Homo sapiens: one gene and its partners. The protein of the gene in region 3 purifies or fractionates together with the protein of the main gene of each other region. This does not show direct contact. Each region holds a gene or a part of one and is shown on either strand. Other genes may lie near its edges.

Evidence for each region.
Region 1: the proteins of EDA (region 3) and P3H2 purify together in Homo sapiens (affinity purification with mass spectrometry; 4 studies listed by BioGRID and IntAct, with this or other methods). This does not show direct contact.
Region 2: the proteins of EDA (region 3) and CWC22 purify together in Homo sapiens (affinity purification with mass spectrometry; 4 studies listed by BioGRID and IntAct, with this or other methods). This does not show direct contact.
Region 4: the proteins of EDA (region 3) and CRTAP purify together in Homo sapiens (affinity purification with mass spectrometry; 3 studies listed by BioGRID and IntAct, with this or other methods). This does not show direct contact.

The regions. Positions count from the first base shown.
Region 1 is NC_000003.12:189,960,398-189,963,897, reverse strand, and holds part of P3H2 (prolyl 3-hydroxylase 2 isoform a precursor), read left to right. Parts: intron 1-3,500. UniProt on the Homo sapiens protein: Prolyl 3-hydroxylase that catalyzes the post-translational formation of 3-hydroxyproline on collagens. Contributes to proline 3-hydroxylation of collagen COL4A1 and COL1A1 in tendons, the eye sclera and in the eye lens capsule.
Region 2 is NC_000002.12:179,969,298-179,972,797, reverse strand, and holds part of CWC22 (pre-mRNA-splicing factor CWC22 homolog), read left to right. Parts: intron 1-1,721; coding exon 1,722-1,857; intron 1,858-1,941; coding exon 1,942-2,148; intron 2,149-2,234; coding exon 2,235-2,297; intron 2,298-3,500. UniProt on the Homo sapiens protein: Required for pre-mRNA splicing as component of the spliceosome. As a component of the minor spliceosome, involved in the splicing of U12-type introns in pre-mRNAs. Promotes exon-junction complex (EJC) assembly.
Region 3 is NC_000023.11:70,035,613-70,039,112, reverse strand, and holds part of EDA (ectodysplasin-A), read right to left. Parts: 3' UTR 1-3,500. UniProt on the Homo sapiens protein: Cytokine which is involved in epithelial-mesenchymal signaling during morphogenesis of ectodermal organs. Functions as a ligand activating the DEATH-domain containing receptors EDAR and EDA2R. May also play a role in cell adhesion.
Region 4 is NC_000003.12:33,117,014-33,120,513, forward strand, and holds part of CRTAP (cartilage-associated protein isoform 1 precursor), read left to right. Parts: intron 1-3,330; coding exon 3,331-3,480; intron 3,481-3,500. UniProt on the Homo sapiens protein: Necessary for efficient 3-hydroxylation of fibrillar collagen prolyl residues.

The sequences.
Region 1 (3,500 bases), on a different chromosome or scaffold from region 3:
GAAGTCCTTTAAATTGCTTCGTCTGAGGAAAAGAAGAGGGTAAAGGCAGTTCTTAATCAGATATGTTCTAGTAAGTGAAGATGTTTGTAGAAATAGCTGTGTCAATGATATTTGATAGTCACTAATCTGTCTTGAGCTTATTAACAAATTGTAAGGCTGGGCGTGGTGGCTCACTCCTATAACCCCAGAACTTTGGGAGGCCGAGGTGGGCAGATCACTTGAGGTCGGGAGTTCGAGACCAGCCTGATCAACATGCTGAAACCCCATCTCTACTAAAAATACAAAATTAGCTGGATGTGGTGGCATGCGCCTGTAGTTCCAGTTACTCGGGAAGCTGAGGCAGGAGAATCGCTTGAACCTGGGAGGCGTAAATTGCAGTAAGCCGAGATCGCACCACTGCACTTCAGCCTGGGCAACAGGGCAAGACTCTGTCTCAAAACAAAAACAAAAACCAAAACAACTCTGTGGCATCAGGGAGGAATCACTTTTTATTGGTCACCCAGAAGACGGATTTGTTTTCTCGCAAATCATAAGAAATAGTATTGAATCATTTATGAAACGTATTTGAAAGAGGGCAAGGAAACCTAAAAGATTATTATTACTTATTACTGTTATTACATTAAGTATTTCAATATTATTATATGCAAACTAGCTGAGGACACTTAGCTAGGAGGAGACCATGATCTCATCGTTTTGGAAGCCCGTGGGCAGATGTCATAGTCTCCACCTGTGGAGCTGCAGCGGTATGAATTAAGACCAATGGGTAGAAGCCCTGGAGGGAAAATTTGGGCTCCACACAAGGAATAACTTTCAAATAGTCACCACAGTTTGGCAGAATTGTCTGCTTTGGAAGCACTGATTGGATGGCTCCAATCAAAGCCCAGGCAACTGCTTAGCATGGAACGCTGAAATGGAATCTAAAACATCGTAGCAGAGGCTTAACTGGATGACCTCCAAATCTTCTCCAGCCCTAAGTATTGATGAAGCTATGAAATTCTATTCTTAAAACTGGCATTCTATCCAGTTTTCCTTGTTAGGTTCCTAAGTTGAATCCAATTTCATCAGAAACTATTTAAAAATAATGCGTTTTTCTCATATACTTTTCACCATCAAATCTAACTTACAAAGTGTTTCCCCACATTCCCTAAGCCATTCTTTCACATATTTTACAAAAGACCTATTGTGACCTTTTATTGTACAGAAGAGCTATTATTATCTGCCTTGGAAACTCTGCTAGATAGGCCCTAGGGGTAGAAGGGTGAACAGAACAAGGTCCTGGACTATGAGGAGCTTGGACAGAACAGCTAGTAAATACGCTGTAAGAAGAGAACAGTATATGTTTTGTAGCAGGGAATCAAGGAAGACTTCTATAAGCTCAGACCTAGAAGCAAAGACGATAGCCAGGCATAGAAAAAATGGCCCTGGCTGGGCGTGGTGGCTCACGCCTATAATCCCTGCACTTTTGGAGGCCTAGGTGGGTGGATCACCTGAGGTCAGGAGTTGGAGACCAGCCTGGCCAACATGGTGAAACCCCATCTCTACTAAAAATACAAAAATTAGCCTGGCGTGGTGGCACGCACCTGTAATCCCAGCTGCTCGGGAGCCTGAGGCAGGGGAATCGCTTGAACCCAGGAGGTGGAGGCTGCAGTTGCAGTGAGCTGAGATCACTCCACCACACTGTAACCTGGGCGACAAGAGTGAGACTCTGTCTTAAAAAAAAAAAAAAAAAAAAAAAAGAAGAAGAAGAAAAAGAAAGAAAGGCCCTGACAAAAGGACCAGAGCACAGAGTCCTGAAAACCTCAAGGGAGCAGCAAACAATTGCCTTCCCCTATCATTACTTTATATCCTGGTATTTTCCATCTCCAAAATGTTAGCATTCCATCAAAGCATTTTTTTTTAAACTAAGGAACCTATGTCAATGGGTAGACAGTGAAGATAAAATTATTGAAATATTACCTCACTATTCTAGTATTCAATTCAGCAGACATTTAATCTATTTCATCATTCAGTATCCAAACTCCCTTTTCCAAGGTATTGTTCTCTCAAAATAAGCTAACACAAAGTAAGTTCTCTTTGCTCCTTTGTAATAGGAAACATCAACGCCAGCGTCCCTTCCTCTGATGGAAAAGTACTAGAAAACCTCTCCAGTCTTCAGGCCGTAGCGGCATCTAGTGGCCACAGTGGGAAATGACCAGAACTTTTTCCTCAGCTAAATTAGCCCAGGCTGTGAATCATTCTTTGCTACACGTGGAGATCATCTATTGATCGTTACAAACTACTAACATCTGTGTTTCAGGAGTTTTAAGAGCTCCCCAGGTGATTCTAACGTGCAGCAGCAGAGTTTGGGAGTTCCTGGCCTAGACGTCTTTTTGCAGATTGAATCTCAGAAAAAAAAAATGCCTACCTATGAACAAGTCATTAGAGCTGGCCGATTCTCATGCTTATTATGAATTACTTTAAAGGGTCTCAGTTCTCAAGGAGTATTTAGCAACATCCTTTTAAGGATGCAAGGATGTTCGAAGCTTCATATATATTGGTTCCAGCTCTTGAATTTCTTTCCCTTAATGAGAAACAAGATTACAATCATTTCTTGTGGTCAACAGATGTGAAAGCTTTGTATGTGTGTCGATTTGTTAAGTATCAGGATTGTTTTCCTTGGCCGGGCACGGTGGCTCAGTCCTGTAATCCTAGCACTTGGGGAGGCCGAGGCGGGCAGATCACCTGAGGTCAGGGGTTCGAAACCAGCCTGGCCAACATGGCGAAACCCCGTCTCTACTAAAATTACAAAAATTAGCCAGGCATGGTGGCATATGCCTGTAATCCCAGCTACTGGGGAGGCTGAGGCAGGAGAATCACTTGAATCCAGGAGGTGGAGGTTGCTGTAACCCGAGATCGCACCACTGCACTCCAACCTGGGCAACAGAGTGAGACTCTGTCTTGAAAAAAAAAAAAAAGATTGTTTTCCTTATATTTGTAAAGTAGTACTTGGGCTTTTTATTTAGATGTGGCAGCAACTTAATTTTCTGTTATTTAGTATATCTAGTCCTTTTAGTTGCCTTTTTGTAAACATTTTTTATTACAAGCTCTTGCATGAAAGGGGCTTTGTTTTCAATTCATAAAATAGTTATTTATTTAACTTACTGTGCGCAGGCACTGTGTTAAAGACCGCCTATGGGGAATGCACACTAGTAGGATATAATTCCTATTTTCAAGGAGCTTGAAGTCAAATTGGAGAAATAATACAAGGACCCAACTAATTAAACCACAAGGCAAGTTTTGGTAAGAATCCTTAGCAGCAAATGCGTGGTTTGAGGGATATCAAAAAGCAATCCAAAAAGGCTTCTTTGAGGAGATGGCATTTGAAAAAAAGCTTTAAAAGATCAATTTCTTTAGGGAGAGGCATTTTAGACAGAGAAAGGCTTCATCCATTTACACATTTACTCATCAAAGAAAATAGAACTCTTGCCACATGTCAGTGGCTTTTCTGAGCACTGAAAATA
Region 2 (3,500 bases), on a different chromosome or scaffold from region 3:
CTGAACTCGTGATCCACCAGCCTCGGCCTCCCAAAGTGTTGAGATTACAGGTGTGAGCCACCACGCCTGGCCATATTTAATATTCTTTAATATAACACTTTGATGCTGATCAAAACACTTTAGATATTTATCAAATTAATCTGACTTAATACTGTACATGGTTACTTGACTGCAAACCATTCCTTTGAAGAACCATTCCCTTCATTTTTATAAAACAATAAAGTTGGTATCTCCTCCACTTCATTCCCTGCTGTTCATGAGAATCTAATAAATATCTGATATTCTACAAAAACCTCTATTCCTTGCAACCACACAGGTATAGTCATATATTTTTAGAATCACTTGATAGAATAGAGTTGATCGATTTTAATCTGTTTCAAATGCAGGTAATTTTATCATGCTGTTATTCAGTTTGTGTTTATTTTATATTCATTATTTGATGGTTTTGATTTAGCTTTTATTTAACCATGAAAATGCTAAAATTGTCCTTGCTCATACTCAAAAGTTTCCTTCAGATATATATTATCATTTCCAATTTAATATCATGTATAACAGGAAGAATTTTAAAGTCATGCTTAGTCTTATTTCACTAATATTAAATATTTTGATTCTTATTTACATGAAAATTCTTTCACTCTTACAAATCTTTTAGATTTTGACCTAATTAGTCATCATATTATTACAGTGATAACTTGCTACTTAAGACCATGGAAACTTAATTTCACATCTGTAACCAGAGATATATTTCCGTTTTTAAATGTGTATTACACTTAGACTAGAGATTTTTGGCATTGCCATGAAACACTCGATATGATAAATTTTTTGCATCTTCCAGCTGTGGTACAGGGCAGTATTTTCTTGTCACTGACCTAAGACTGTTTGACACCCCTCCTCCCCTAGTAAAAAGAAGTAGTGGGTGTCTTTGATGTTGTGCACAGCTGGAAGAAGATATCTCCTGAGTTGAGATTTAGACTTCTTTCCTCACCATCTTAAATCACTGTCTGACTTTAGAAAGGCATATGTATGGTGTTTTAAACATTCTTTGTTGTTCGTTTTCTTCTCTTAGCAAACTTCTCAATAGAATTTTATTCCCACTCTTCCTGGCATTGTTTATAAATGTCAGTTTTTGAACGTGGCCAGTAATAGTTTGATTTAATTTTTTAAAAAAAGATAGACTATTCAAAACTGTTGTGTTCCAGAAGTTGTTAAGATATTTTGTGATAAAATTAGTATTCATGTAACTTAAGGACTATTTGTGTCTAATAGAGTTGCTGATAGAATGAATTGGGAAATGTATATAAAGAATTGTGATCATGGAGAAGGGTATTATAAATCATATTACTATTTCTTATGTAGTAATTATGAAAATAATTACCTTATTAGAAAGTAGTATATGATTTTTAACATATTTTATCTATGACACTTTCCGTACATAATGGCTAAGAATATTTCTTCTGAAGATAATTCAAATAGTTGTATTCAGCATAGAAAATTAAGATTTTTGAAACAGTCATCTGAAAATTCTTAGTAGACAGATAATAAAAGTGATAGAAAAATTGTATCCCATATTTGGAGTATTTCCATGTGCTTTATAAAACTTTGCCCATCATATGTGCAATATAATTATTGTAAACAGATTTACTAATTTTTAGAAATTATAAAAATAATTTAATGTATGTAAAAGCATTTTGTTTCTTCCTTGTATATGTATTTTATTTAAGGCACACGAAGTATTATGCTTAGAGATGCTCACTTTGCTCCTGGAAAGACCAACAGATGATAGCGTTGAAGTAGCTATTGGTTTTCTTAAGGAATGTGGCCTCAAATTAACACAAGTGTCACCAAGAGGAATCAATGGTAAGTGTACATTCATAGTTTGATGTTAAGTTTTTATTATATTTATTGCTTATTTTATTGTCTTTTCTTTCTGTTAACTTTTAGCTATATTTGAACGCCTTCGAAACATTCTGCATGAGTCTGAAATTGACAAAAGAGTTCAATATATGATTGAAGTGATGTTTGCTGTACGGAAAGATGGATTCAAGGACCACCCCATTATCCTAGAAGGTCTTGATTTGGTGGAAGAAGATGATCAATTCACTCATATGCTCCCTCTGGAGGATGACTATAATCCAGAAGATGTTCTTAGTAAGTCCGGGGCATGTTAGTTGGAAAGAGGCTTACCAACAAATGTAAATATAGAAAATAAACATTAACTTTTACATTTTTTTTAGATGTTTTCAAGATGGATCCTAATTTTATGGAGAATGAAGAGAAGTACAAAGCTATTAAGAAAGGTATGTAAAATTTTATAAAATAATTTAGTTTGGATAAGTAGAAGCAATTTAAGTAGTTACGTAATACTGATAGCAAATATTTAGAGATCCCCACCTAATGAATCGCTGCTCTTATAAAGTTATTCTCTTAGCTGTTTCCTCGGGCATTATTTTTTTCCTGGTGCTTGCCCAGGGTTTTTTACTTCATTCTGAATTACTTACCCCATTGTTCTTTCCTCTTTCCCTCTAAACTATGCAACACTTACGTCTCACCCATCTTAAGAAATATTCATAGATTAGTGGTGGCCTTTATTTAGCTTCTCTACCATTTACATTCTGTGCCACCCAGTTTAGTATTCAATTAAGTGGTATACTTTATTGTAAAGTGCTATACTTTATTGTTTCTTGAGGTCAGGTTAATATCCTTCTGGTAGGATGAATCATAGTATTGGTGCCTCTCTGATAAAATAAATTGATCATTTTCATTTGTACATCATTGGTATATTGTAAGTACTAACTTTGGACAGGTTTTGATGTGTAATTTATCTTTGACATTACTAGCTGAGTGACCTGTAGCAAGTTACTTGTTTGTTGGAAGACTAAATGTTACCTTTCTATGGAAGGATATATAAAACACAGTGTTGTGTATTATCACCTACAATGATAGCTATTATTAGTTACTATTTTCACATTTGTATTATTTTCCTCCTAAAGCTAACACTCAGGCCTACTTACATAATAATTTTATGGGCTTATTTCTCTTGAGTTGTAATTTTACTGGAGAAGTATTTATTGCTGTGGAAGCAATAAAATTTACCTTTGTATTAAACCCCAAAAGTTTGTATTAAAAGCTCTCTGATTATAATAGAAATGTAAAGAGTTGGTTAGCTTTGCAAAATCTTTTATCAGGCTAACAGCACCATTGGGCAAAATGTAATTTTAGTTTTTGTCATTTGTTTGCTTTTAACATAAAGACCAGCCTTATGTAGTCTCATATACAGAGAAAGCAGAAACCTAGAACTCTGTCTCTGTCTGCATTCCATTGTTCAGTAGTGCTTAGAAGTAGAAGGTTGAAATGAAAAGTAAAATTGGGAGAAATCTTCCATTCCTCTGCATTATCCTAAAAACCTGTTATAATAATGAGTTTCTCTTCTTAGATGCTGATTTCCTAGGAGCTTTTCACTGTAATATGCCAGATTCTTTTTTTCTGTTATAATTTCATTT
Region 3 (3,500 bases):
TGGGCCAGTCTTGTGCTTTCCAGTCCAGAGGCTAGAGCTGGGAGAATGCCTTGGGAGGAGGAAGAGTTCTGATGAAGGCTGCAGCTACTCTCTCCCTGCCTGGCCAGGCTCCTGAAGGGGGCCAAGTACTTCCAGCCTGGAGTTTGTGGGTGGAAGAAAGAAGATGGCCATGTGGGACAGGAACTGCTTTACCCCCTCACTCTGCTGAGTCTGGAGGTTGGTGCTTGCTCACCACTTGGGGCAGGTCATCTTCCCTCTCTGGGCCTCAGTTTCTACATAAGTAACAGGGTGGAATGTAGGTTGGGCTAGATTCCCTCTAAGGGCCTTTTTAGCTCTAAATTTCTCTGAATCTATTTGCATCCACAGGAAGTTACATAAACACATACACTCATACATGGATCAAAGTCTTTGTTTACCTCCAGGGTTCCTAGCTCTTTCCTGTTCAGCAAAAGAAATTTGGCTCAGGATGGATGAAGGGGGAAATAGGCAAATACTACTTCTCCAGGTAACCAGTAGCCGAGCAGCCTCCGCCAGCTGTCTTTTGTGCCAGCTTGGCTGTTGAAGCCCAAGTAACTGGCAGAGACTCCTGCCATGCCATTCTCCTTCAAACCTCTGTCATCTGCTTGCCCACAAATGTCCTCGTCCCATTCTCCATGCAAGCATTGGTCCTCTGGCAAATTCACACCAACATAATTCCAAACTGCACATCTATTTCCACATTCTCTCATCAGTAAATTGCTTTGTCACTTTGCCAATGACTTAGCAGCAATAGGGCTCCCCAGCTACCTATTGCTTCCCTCATCATCCCTCGCCCTCTAGAGTTCCTTTGGAGGGTTCAGAATGAATCAAGGGTCCAGTGGAGATCCTATTTCCTTTATCATCCCCTCCATGTCTGGAGAATAGAATGGTATCAGGATGCTCTTTAGGGGCACAATTAGGAAGACTTTTCCTCCTCTCTCCTCACACCTTTCTGGCCTCAGAACCAGTCCTCTCTTTCAGGTCTTCCCTCCATCCCTGAGAGACCCTGGTAGTATCAAAGTCTCTAAGGTATGGTGGAAAGAGATAAGGAGTCACACTAGTAGTTGTGGGAAGCAGGCTGGCTCCTGTAAGCTGTCTGTAGGGTAATGAAAGGAGGACTTTGCCCACAGTAGGGGCTCTACACATGATGGTTGGCTGGTTCCTAGGATGGGTGAAAGAACATAAAGGCCACAAGTTCTGTGGGTCCCAGAGGCCTGCTGCTCCAACATTGTGCCAGGAAGATTCTTCTGAACACAAGAGCTCTAAGGCTGTTCGCTGTTTTCCAAAGAAATGTCTGACTCTTTTTGCCACAGAGCCCCTGGCAGCCGAGAGGACGGGTATTACCATCGAGGAATGAAATCAGGCATCTCTGGGTTTCTCCCCGGAACTCTCAAGGATTTCAGTTCCCAATTACCACTTTTATTGGTTCTCTCTAGACCTCAAATTCCACACAATGCTGTGGTGTAATGGAACAGCTTTGGAGTCAGACCTGGCTGAAGCTCCAGGTCTGCGGCTTAAACTGGTCAAAACACTCTGAGAGTGCTACCTCTCTGAGCCTCATCTAAACAATGATGTTTGTCATATTATCAGCCTTGCCTTCTTCAAAGGAGATAATACAAGAGAAATTATTTTCCAAACATGAAGGAGTGGTTCTTGTTGGTTTCTGCTACAACTGCGGACTGTCCGAGGCACTTTATAGGAGTTAGGGCCAGACACATGCCTGGAGTTCACCTCACCTTGGGTTGCAAGGCTGTCATTAGCAACCAGACAACGGAGGCCTAGCCCATCACGTCTCACCCTGACCCTTGAAGGGCCAAGCAGTGTGGTTGCTTAGAAAGGGAAGGCACAGCTGAGAAATAAGTACCCGCTGTTCTTGGTGAATTTCAGCTGCCTGAAGGAAATTATTCCCCATCTCCTGAAAAGGAAACACATTTCAGGAACAAGAGGAGCAGACTGTACAAGGCTGGCCTTCCCAGGTTTGGGCTGGATCTAGCACCCAGAAACCAGGCTGAGCCCAGGCACTTTGAAGTAAGGCTCTCGAGGGTCCTACCATATGATCTGTTGGGAAGCTTGGGGTTTAGGGGAAGGTGAATTTGGACCTGAACTAGGGGGCAGATCCCTGCTCAGTGCCTAGACACTGGCTTCTCCTGAGCCTGGCTTTAGGGGAGCAGCATGAGCACCTGCGGTGACAATGCTCTGCTGTGGCTTTTTGAAGCCAGAGTGAAGAAAGACTGGGTTAGTACAGCATCAGCTGCTGGCCTTTCAGATAAGGCCTGGCCTAACGTCCACTTGGGTTGCAGCAAACTTGAACAAAATCCCTCTGTCCTATCCTCACCCCTTGCCCTTTCTAGGCCAGGTAAAAAGGCTCTGCCTTGCTAATGCCCAGGAGCAGTCTAGGATTTGGGAATTTAGAAGGCTGTGGTGAGGGCTAAGAGTCACAGGTACTAGAAATTGAAGGGACTTCTGGAGGTCATCCCGTCCAACCCTTCGTCCCCAGACAGAATTTGATTAGGAATGGATGAAAAACATTTGTACTGCTTAATAAATGGAAAATTCTGTTTGTGCCCAGGTAAGCTAAAGAATATCCCAGACTCACATGACCACAGGTCCCAGGTTAGGCACCTGTCTCAGACAGAGGTAGGCTCCATGGAGAAAGAAGACAGGAGTTCTAGTCAGGCTGGGAATGGGGGCAACTAGAAGGTGACCCCAGGGAATTTTCTGAGTGTGGAGCACAGCTGTAAATAAAATGAGAGTCATGTGACCCAAGTACGGATTCAGGGTCTTAGGCGGGCAGGTTTGTGGCCATTCCCTGTGATTGTTCCAAAGCACAGCAAACTTCCCAAAGCCCAGCAAGCTGCCACGGTGTGGCTGTCAGCTGGAGTGGGAAGAGCACTCCAACCCTCCTGCAGGCCACAGTATAGAGCAGAAAGAACATTCCCACTGCCAAGGATGCTCCTTGGCAGGTTTCTCTTATGGTCTCTGCCAAAAGCACCTGCCTTTTCCCTCTCTGGCCTTCTTCTTAGGCTGCAATGCTCCCTTCCCACTCCACCCCAGCCACTACCCTACCCAAGAGAGGAGCAGCAGCCCCCTTGGGGTCAGATGTCCACCCCCAGAGTCTGGAGTGCACCTTTGCTTTCTCTGGCCTGCTGCCCTGGATCCTCATTTTAGTGCAACAAACAATAGATCTGACAACAGGGACCTCGGGGTTGAAGAGTCATGCCATAAGTCAGTCAACATGGAACCAAAGAAGGTTCTGCTTCATGTAAACCCTGGGGCTCCATCAACTGTCCTGTTAACTCAAGGTCATTCTGGAAAGTCAAGCAGGCCTTGTCACCCTGGAGTCACTGGGGAATAAATAACACTGGGGCATTTCTCTGCGGCTGCAACACCAATACACCTCACTCCACAGCAGCACTTAGAGGTTCTGGGAGTCCTGGCTCCCAAACCCAGGGAAGGGGCACGGACAGAGGCAAAATGGGGGG
Region 4 (3,500 bases), on a different chromosome or scaffold from region 3:
GGAGGATCACTTGAGCCCAGAAAGTCAAGGCTGCAGTGAGCTGTGATCTTACCACTGCACTCCAGCCTGGGTGACAGAACAAGACTCTTGTGTCAAAAAAAAGTGATGTTTACGTGTTTAAACTCTGTTTATGGATAGAGAGGAAAAGATGGGTGGCAGGCACATACATTCTACCTGGCACCTGAAGGCTGGAGGTCGATATGAAGGTAGATAGTGCGCTGTGGCAGGACATGGATAAATGTTACTCTGCTGTTCTGAGTTGCAGTTCTCTGTTTCAGTGATTAAGGAGAAATGCCTCAATTGATCACTGGAATAGCAATGGTGGGTTCCGACTGCCAGAGGGAGGCGAGGAGGTTTGGATGTGTGCTCTTGTAGAAAAGGGCTGTGCTACTGGTGTGCAGCCTCAGGTGCATCATAGGTTTCTCGTCACCAGCCTACTCTAGGTCCATGTCATTAGCTTTCTTTGGGTTCTCTCCACAATTACCATCTTCCACGAAAAACTCATTTTTCTCATAGGCCAAGCAAAAAGTAGGCCGGAGCACTTCATCAAATCCTTAATGACTGTTGAGCTCTAACCTGGACAGAGAACACTGACTCACAGGCACTGTTAACCCCAGGCCTTGCCTGGCTGTGGCCTCTAACTCCCCGGAACCACAGGGCCTGCCTCTGTGTCATGGCTGATTTAGGGTGGCTCATGCTGGTGGCTGTATCTCAGGAACCCAAGGCAAGGTGGTTCCCTCCATCCCTACCACCTTCTCCAAAATCTGCCTGGGGTCTGTCAGAGGTTTGGTAGCCAAGATGTGTCTCCATGTTCCAGCTGCAGAGCCTGAGTTGAAGTAAATAAAATCACTCTTTTCTCTTCAGGAAGAGATTCCGTTTTGTAAAACATCCTAAGTTAGAAGCCTTAAAAATCCTACTCTGTGCCCCTCTTTCTATTCCTTTCTTTCTTTCTTTCTTTCTTTTTTGAGACGGAATCTCACTGTGTCACCCAGACTGGAGTGCAGTGGTGCGATCCTGGCTCACTGCAACCTCCGCCCCCCGGGTTCAAGTGATTCTCCTGCCTCAGCCTCCCGAGTAGCTGGGATTACAAGCACCTGCCACTGTGCCTGGCTAATTTTTGTCTTTTTAGTAGAGATGGGGTTTCATCATCTTGGCCAGGCTGATCTTGGACTCCTGACCTCGTGATCCACCCACCTCGACCTCCTAAAGTGCTGGGATTACAGGCATGAGCCACTGCTCCCGGCCTCTGTGCCCCTCTTTCTAAGTGCTGTTCTGAGAATTAGTGACTCTAATTTCACTGGCAAATGCTTTAAAAGGCAGCATTCATACCCTCTCCCTTCCTTCCAGCTGAAGACTAGCCTTTTTCTGGCCAGGAGTGTGAAGCTTTCTGTAGGGCTGTTTTAAAGGCAGCCCTGCCACAAGCCACTAATTGGCATTCCCAAAACATCAGCATTGACATCTGGGAGTCTGCCCTCATCACCACCCACCACTTCTCTGATGTGGCCACTGCCATTGTCTCAAAATGACTTGGTTCCAATTCTGGGGCAATTCGGTACCGATATATGCCATCCTATGACTCTTAGAAGTCTAGGGTATACCAAATATTCCTTTATTTTCTCTGTCTAAACCGAATTCCCTAATTCCCGCCTTGGAGCGTCCCTCTGGATTGGCTGAGTCTCTGTGCACATGCACAGGTGCCTGCCCTTCTCCCTACTAGGTTGTGCCAAGAGTCCATCAGCATGGGGGCCCTCTGGTTGGTGGTCATGAGTCCTCACAGGGAGGCCTCTGCATCCTTATTTGCCTGCCCTCCTGAGGTCCTGCCATAACATACCTGTTCTTCCTGAGGACTTCTGCCGTCTTGAACACTGCCGATAAGTGCCAGCCCTGAAGCTCCGGGGCCCGCAGCCCTGCTGCTCTCACAGATCCCAAGGGAAACTTTTTTCCTAGCCTGGGAGATTCCCTTTCTCCCTCTTCTTCTCCCAGGCCAGTCAGCTTCTTCCTGCAGCTCCTCTCCAATTTCTTTCTCCCCTCAAACCTGTCAGGCTCTTTTGTGAGTGCAGGCTTTTTTCAAGTGAATAATTTGCTGGTTCTGACCAGATATCTACCTCCCCTGAGACAGTGAAACTCAGAATCATTGGCCCCTTCAATGGAGAGAAGACAGAGGGGAAAAGAGAGGAAAATGTGAATTAATTTTATTATATTTTATGGTCATAATGTCATTATGTTCAAATCACAGATACTTATTGTGTCCTGCCTTGTCCTGAGGACTGTGTGAGGCACCAGGAATCCAGATAATGAATGACACACAGCTGGGTCCCCCGAGGATCATAGTCTGATGGGGGAGATAGACGTACCACTGAGATTGTAGGGTGGCGTAAAATGCGGGAAGACAGAACCCAGAACTAGCCCAACAGAGAGGCTCTTAATTGAGGCCACTAGGAGACAGGGAGAACTTAACAGAATATATGGTCCATGCAGGTGGGGATTTTTTTTTCCTGTTTTGCTTATTGTTATAGACCCACAACCTAGAAATGGTGCTCTTGTAATATGACGTTTATTGCTGCATGAATGGATGAATAAGTGAGGAGGTGGTGGAGTCATTGAGAATGTTAGCAGAAGGTCTGTGGGGGATTTGGGAAAACAATATATTTGTCAAGGTGCCAGTGGAAAAGATATGGTGCAGTCATATTGGGTAATTGGAGGAAAGTTTAAGAAGGTGGTTATTTACAAAGGTGTGTGCAGTGCATGGGGAATCCACAAGAGATAGTGTTCTGCCACAGGGGTGATAGCAGTGGGATATGACCAACCCTAGGCCAAAAGGGGCAGGGGAGAGAGCAGTGATTGAAACCGGGAAGGAGGGAGACTCTATGGAGAGGGTCACCTTGAGAAGAACTGTGATCTTCAATTAAGGGACATAGCAGCCCAAGAGGACTGTGCAGGGAGGGAACCAGGAAATGAAATAACATGACCTTACTCTCTTCCCTTCCTCAGTCATCTACTGGGGCTCCTCATGGGTGAACCTCTTTGGAAGCCAGAGAGCGAGGGAGTCTGTTGTTATAGTCCACACAGGCCAGCCTCCTGGGGCATGTAGCCAGTGCAGAGTAGATTGGGAAAGGCAGACCGAGGCCATCCAGACAGTCGCTTTCAGGAAATCAGCACTTGTCTCACAGTGCCTGGACTTGGTCTTGAGGGGCCCTGGAAGTCATGGAACCTTTAGCTGGAAAAGTTATAGCAACACAAAGTTTCTGAAGGACTAAGCAGATATTCTTGTTTTACAAAAATTACCACTTAGCATCCATGGAGTAGCTTTTATGTTCTTTGTCCTTTTAGGCAAATAATCTCCCCAAAGCCATCGCCGCTGCTCACACCTTTCTACTGAAGCATCCTGATGACGAAATGATGAAGAGGAACATGGCATATTATAAGAGCCTGCCTGGTGCCGAGGACTACATTAAAGACCTGGAAACCAAGTCATATGAAGTATGTTTGGATTTTTATGT